Linked DNA regions of Homo sapiens: region 2 is linked to region 1. The links come from fine-mapping of genetic effects on gene expression. A gene starts in region 1. The other region holds a variant in brackets. All regions are shown on one strand. Distances are from middle to middle.

Evidence for each region. PIP is the estimated chance that this variant, and not a neighbour inherited with it, causes the effect.
Region 2: its variant is fine-mapped to the expression of RRN3 in transverse colon (CEDAR, PIP 0.92).

The regions. Positions count from the first base shown.
Region 1 is chr16:15,093,004-15,095,926 of GRCh38, forward strand. RRN3 (RNA polymerase I transcription factor RRN3) reads right to left here and starts at 1,269. Exons shown (of 18, transcript NM_018427.5): 1 at 1,142-1,269. The coding sequence starts at 1,230. LOC100505915 (a long non-coding RNA gene) reads left to right here and starts at 1,408. Exons shown (of 4, transcript NR_125434.1): 1 at 1,408-1,808. It also overlaps a transcript of PDXDC1 not described here. RefSeq lists an enhancer at 1,249-1,543.
Region 2 is chr16:14,503,737-14,506,659 of GRCh38, forward strand. The region is part of intron 21 of PARN (poly(A)-specific ribonuclease); the gene reads right to left. Among named protein-coding and RNA genes, the nearest start is that of LINC03107, 76 kb to the left of the region's middle. The variant A/AAC (reference allele first, on the strand shown) is at 1,744.

The sequences.
Region 1 (2,923 bases):
GGCTGGATTTTTTTTTTTGAGATGGAGTCTTGCTCTGCTGCCCAGGCTGGAGTGCAGTGGTGTGATCTTGGCTTAACTGCAACCTCCATCTCCCGGGTTCAAGCAATTATCCTGCCTCAGCCTCCTGAGTAGCTGGGATTACAGGCACCTGCCACCATGCCCGGCTGATTTTTGTATTTTCAGTAGAGACGAGGTTTCGCACGTTGGCCAGGCTGGTCTCCAACTCCTGACTTCAGATGATCCGCCCGCCTCGGCCTCCCAAAGTGCTGGGATTACAGGCGTGAGCAACCGCGCCCGGCCTAGATTTTTGTCTTCATTCAAGTGGAAGCTCAAATGACAGATGTCTTCCCAATGAGAAATCTCAAAAGCTCCTTCTCTCCCTTCTCCCTCCCCCATTACCTTGTTGTATAACTGAAATCATCGTGTTCGTTTATTTATTGGCCTATGTACTGCCTTTCCCCCCTATGCTGTAAGCTCTGTAGAAAGCAGGGACATTAGTGTCTTTGGATAAACCACTGTCCCCAGTGTTTAACACAGTAAGCAGGAGCTCGATAATTATTATGAATCATATTACGCTAATTGTTTTACAAGGTTTGCTTCACTTACACGTAGTAAATTAATGAAAAAACATAGCATCCTAATGACTCTGAAAGTTAAACGCCAAGAGTGCTACGGGGGTTAGGGATTTTAAAAGTGGAGCAAAATAAAGACTGCGAAACAAATACGTGTGTCGAAACAAATTCCAAACAAAAAAGATGTAATATTCAATTTGCCATGAGTGACGACGTTCGGCTGATAACCCACATAGCCCAGGGAAATCCCTTCCAAATTTGGACGAAGAAGAGGGAAGGAAGAGGGGTCAAGGCGCAGAAGGCAGTACCCAGGCCTGGGAAATCACGAAGAGACACAGTCGGGAAAGGGGGCCTCCAGAACAGAGAACATAGTCACTTTTCCAGGCCCCACCCATGTCTATTACCCAGTTAGGAGGAATGAGCTCATTTCTGTGAACGTGAGATGACCCTCCACCCCGTGCTCCTATCACACGCCATGAGCTTTGTCCCACATCCTTTCAATCCGCTCCTCTAAGCGCCGTCCTGAGCTTTCGTCCCAGATACGCAGAAGGAAGCGGCCTGAATCTTACCCAGTCCTCGACGCGCCCAGCTTCTTAACTGCAGAGGACGAAGCGGCCGCATCTCCCGGCAAACGCGTGTGAAGCAGCGGTGCCGCCATTGGGCCGAACTAACGCGACCGCTGCGCCTCAGGCCGGATGCCCAGCTCCTTCCAGCCACAGCCTCTGTCCCGGAAGTTGCGCGTGCCAGCGCAACCTTCAGCCAATCAGCGGCCCCGCGTGGGGAGGGCGTATGCTCTCGGCGGGCTAGAGCGCCGCTGAAACCCGCTCCTCGTTCTACTTGGAGGACTTGTTCCAGCCAGCGCTAGTGCGTGAGTATAAGGAGAGACGGGAAGGACCGGCTCCATCCAGCCCTGAGGATCCCGAAGAAAGGGTGGAAACACCCTGGATGTGCTAAGCTGTGGCCGGGTACACTCAAGTGTTAATTTTTTGGAGTCAAAGCCTCCCTCAGTCAAATCGAAGAAACTGAAGCACTTGTGACTGACCCAGATCTTCACGGAGGAAAGGGGATTCGAACCCGGCTGACCCAGGAGCCTGGGCTCTATACTCAGTGCAGCAGTCTCACAGACACCCAAGATAACGTTATCCTCACGGAAACGAGCTCGACGAAGTGACCTACCTCAGAGCCTCAAGGCTATGGTGATGCTGGCATGAGAAACAACAGGAGAGTTACGAAGAGGTGTTACCCCCTTGACTTTATTTATTTATTTATTTATTTTCTTTTGAGGCCGAGTCTTGCCCTTTTGCCCAGGTGGAGTGCAGTGGTGTGATCTCAGCTCACTGCAACCTCCGCCTCCCCAGTTCCAGCAATTCTCGTGCCTCAGCCTCCCAAGTAGCTGGGATTACAGGCGCATGCCACCACACCCGGCTAATTTTCGTATTTTTAGTGGAGACGGGGTTGCACTGTGTTGGCCAGGCTGGTCTCGAACTCATGACCTCAGGTCATCCGCCCGCCTCGGCCTCCCAAAGTGCTGGGATTACAAGCATGAGCCACCACGCCCGGCCAAACTTAAATTTTTAAAAGAGGAACAGGAGTCAGCCAGACCAACAAAAGAGCCACTGGCGTTCCAAGCATAGGAAACGGAGGAAACAGAGGCCAAAACCTCGGGACTGTGGAGGATGTAGAGGGAGAGCAGGGGCTGCCCCTACTCTCAGGGAGGGGAAAAGGTTGCAACTTTGGAAACTGTACAGGCCTATCAAAAATACAAAAATATCCAGCCTGGGTGACACGGTGAAACTCCATCTCTACAAAAAATTTAAAAAATAAAAATAATAAAAATTATCTGGGTGTGGTGGCACACACCTGTAGTCCCAGCTACTCGGGAGGCTGAGGATTGCTTGAGCCTGGGAGATAGCACCACTGCACTCCTGCTTGGGCAACAGAGTGAGACCCTGTCTCGAAATAAATAAATAAGTTTTTAAAAATGCATATGTATGGGCCCGGCGCAGTGGCTCACGCCTGTTATCCCAACACTTTGGGAGGCCGAGGCAAGTGGATCACCTGAGGCCAGAAGTTTGAGACCAGCCTGGCCAACATGACAAAACCCTGTCTCTACTAAAAATACAAAATTAGCCAGGCATGGTGGCAGTGCCTGTAATCCCAGCTACTTGGGAGGCCGAGGCAGGAGAATAGTTTGAACCCAGGAGGCAGAGGTTGCAGTGAGCCAAGATCGTGCCATTGCACTCCAGCCTGGGTGACGAGTGAAACTGTGTCTCAAAAAAAAAAAAGGTGTGTGTGTGTGTGTGTGTGTGTGTGTGTGTTTATATGTATCTCTCTCCAGGAGTTCAAGACCA
Region 2 (2,923 bases), 590 kb before region 1:
GTAGTACACGCTGCCAATGCTGTAGGCTCTGTTACCCTCACTTTATACAGAAAACTGAAGACCCTGTTGAATGGCTTGTCCATAGTCTTGCAGCTGGTATAAGGAGAACTGGAATACAAATTCAAGATGTTTCAATCATACAATGCTGCAAGGAGCTGATGTCAAGGAAGATACAAAGTAATGACCACCTACTCTGCTAGCAGATGGTGGTAAATTGTTCTTAGAAGCAGTGAACCAAGGGCATGATATCAACAGTCCTTGTGTGTGCCTTCTTCAGCAGAGAGGTCTACTGACTGTCAGTGAGTGTTCTGTCTAAACGAGAAGGGGCTTAGAGAGGATCATATCCTTTGACCTAGTAATTCCTCTTTTAGGAAATCATCCTATGAAAACAATCTGAAATGAGGACTAATTTTTAATGCACAAGGATACGTAAATTTTTAAATTAAAAATGTCTTCAAAACACAAACAAATGTTTAATAGTAGGAGAATAGTTAAATAATTATGCTATTCATATTCATTAAAAATTATGTGAGGTTGAGGGAGGCCGGCACGGTGGCTCACACCTGTAATCCCAGCACTTTTGGCGACCGAGGTGGGTGAATCACGAGGTCAGGAGTTGGAGATCAGCCTGGCCAACATGGTGAAACCCTGTCTCTAATAAAAATACAAAAAATTATCCGGGCATGGTGGCATGAGCCTGTAATCCCAGCTACTCGGGAGGCTGAGGCAGGAAAATAGCTTGAACCCAGGAGGCGGAGGTTGCAGTGAGCAGAGATTGCGCCATTGCACTCCAGCCTGGGTGACAGAGCAAGACTCCGTCTCAAAAAATAAATAAATAAAATAAATAAAAATTACGTGAGGGAGAAAGTAGGGAGAGGGGAGAAAAAATACGCTTTCAAAGCAATAATAACCAAACAAAATATAATCAATAAATTCTCTGGCTAGCTATTTGGGAAAAAGTAACATGAATGCCTCTCTCATAGGTTATACCATTGACTCAATCAACAAATATTTGCTGATCACCTATTTTAAGCATTGAGAAAAACTTAGAATAAAAAAATCTTTGCCCTCCTAAGACAATTCGTTAAGCAGTACAGTTTCATATGGGTATTTTCCTATATGTATGTTAAGCCTCCATTTAAAAGTTAAAATAAAAAGCCTGACTTCATGGATCTTACATTCTAGTGGTGAGATATAGACACTAAACAAAAAAGTAAAATATACAGTGTACGTGCAGTGCTATGGAGAAAACAAAAAGCAGGCAGTACTGAGATGTGGGTTGTGATTTTAAATTAAGTGGTCAGGGAAAGTCTTACTGATAAAGTTACCACATAACAATGCAAGATGCCAAATTTCAGATAAATTACATATCACTGTTTAGTATATCATACAATATTTGGCACACAGCTATTTTAAGTGAAATCTGGCAATCTTACTTACTGAAAGGCAAGTGAACAAACCTCATTCCTAATAAATTAAATGTTAATGCTTCTGAATAGGACACTAAAGCCAGAAACTATAAAAGAATAAACTGACAGATATACTATGGAAAATGTAAAGCTTTGGTTCGGCAACATAGGCTAGATTAAGAATAGCTGGGCACAGTGGCGCACGCCTGTAGTCCCAGCTCCTCCAGAGGCTGAGGTGGGAGGACCTCGAGCCCAGGAGTTAAAGGCTGAAGCTGGAGGGTGCTATAATCACACCTGTGAATACTGGGTAACAAAGCAAGATCTCGTCTCTTAA[A/AAC]ACACACACACACACACACACACATACACACACAAAACTGTACAACAAATTGGGACAAGTATTTGCAAAATACAAAACTCAGGATTAATCTAAGCATCATTTTCTCCTATAAAATGAGGGGAGGGGGAAGATACCTGTGGTTCATACAATTATAAGGATTTCAGAACCATGTCTTGTACCTAATAACCAATGGTTCATTAAATGTAATAAATAATAATCATGATGTAGGTGTACTTATAAATCAGCAAGAAAAGCACACAATTCACAAAATAATATCAACCAATTAAACTTCTGAAAATAATTCTAGTGTCAGCTTTGGCAACATGTGAACTAAAATTTGAATGACATCCTTGCACAAAGAGGTCACAAAATTTTAAAAGCAATCCATTTTTTAAAAAAATCATCAATGGACATTAATGCTGCTGGATGAAAGATTACTGAGGAACAGGGTTTCACAGTCTCAAAGTATTACTCACAGAGTACTTATTTATTACAAAGCAGGAAGGCTACAATGGAAAAATCTGTGACCACTATTTACCTAAATGATGTCAAACCAGACATCAGCAATAAGGGAACAAACTGATACCATGTGCCTCTCAGTGTGATGCACTGAAAAGAGCACATCAACTACGTGGTACTCCCGCCAGAAACATTTAATCTGAATCTTATCATGAGACAATCAGAAACATACACATTGAAGGACACTGTAAAACAACTGATCTGAACTCCTCAGAAAAATGTCAATCTTGTGAAAATAAGAAACAGGCTGGGGAACTATTCCAGATTAAAGGAGACTAAAGACTAAAGAGCCATGATGACTAAAAGTAACACAAGACTTTGACTGGAGCTTGGATCCAAAAATAAAAATAGAAAAACTGTAAGGGACATTATTAGGACATTTGGGGAAATTTGATTACAGCATGGACATTAGATCATATCAAAATCATATCAGTGTTAAATTTCCTGAGTGTGATAAATATATTAGGGCAATATTTTTAAAAAGCCTGTGTTCTTAAGAGAAATACACTAAAATACTTCTAAGCAAACTGTTATGTCTCTGACTCTCAAGTAGTTTAGCAATAAAAAACAAATACATGTATACATGTTCACATATGTACATATTATGCTTGTGTATATATGTGTGTGTCTGCAGAGAGGGAGACAGAGCAAATATGATAGA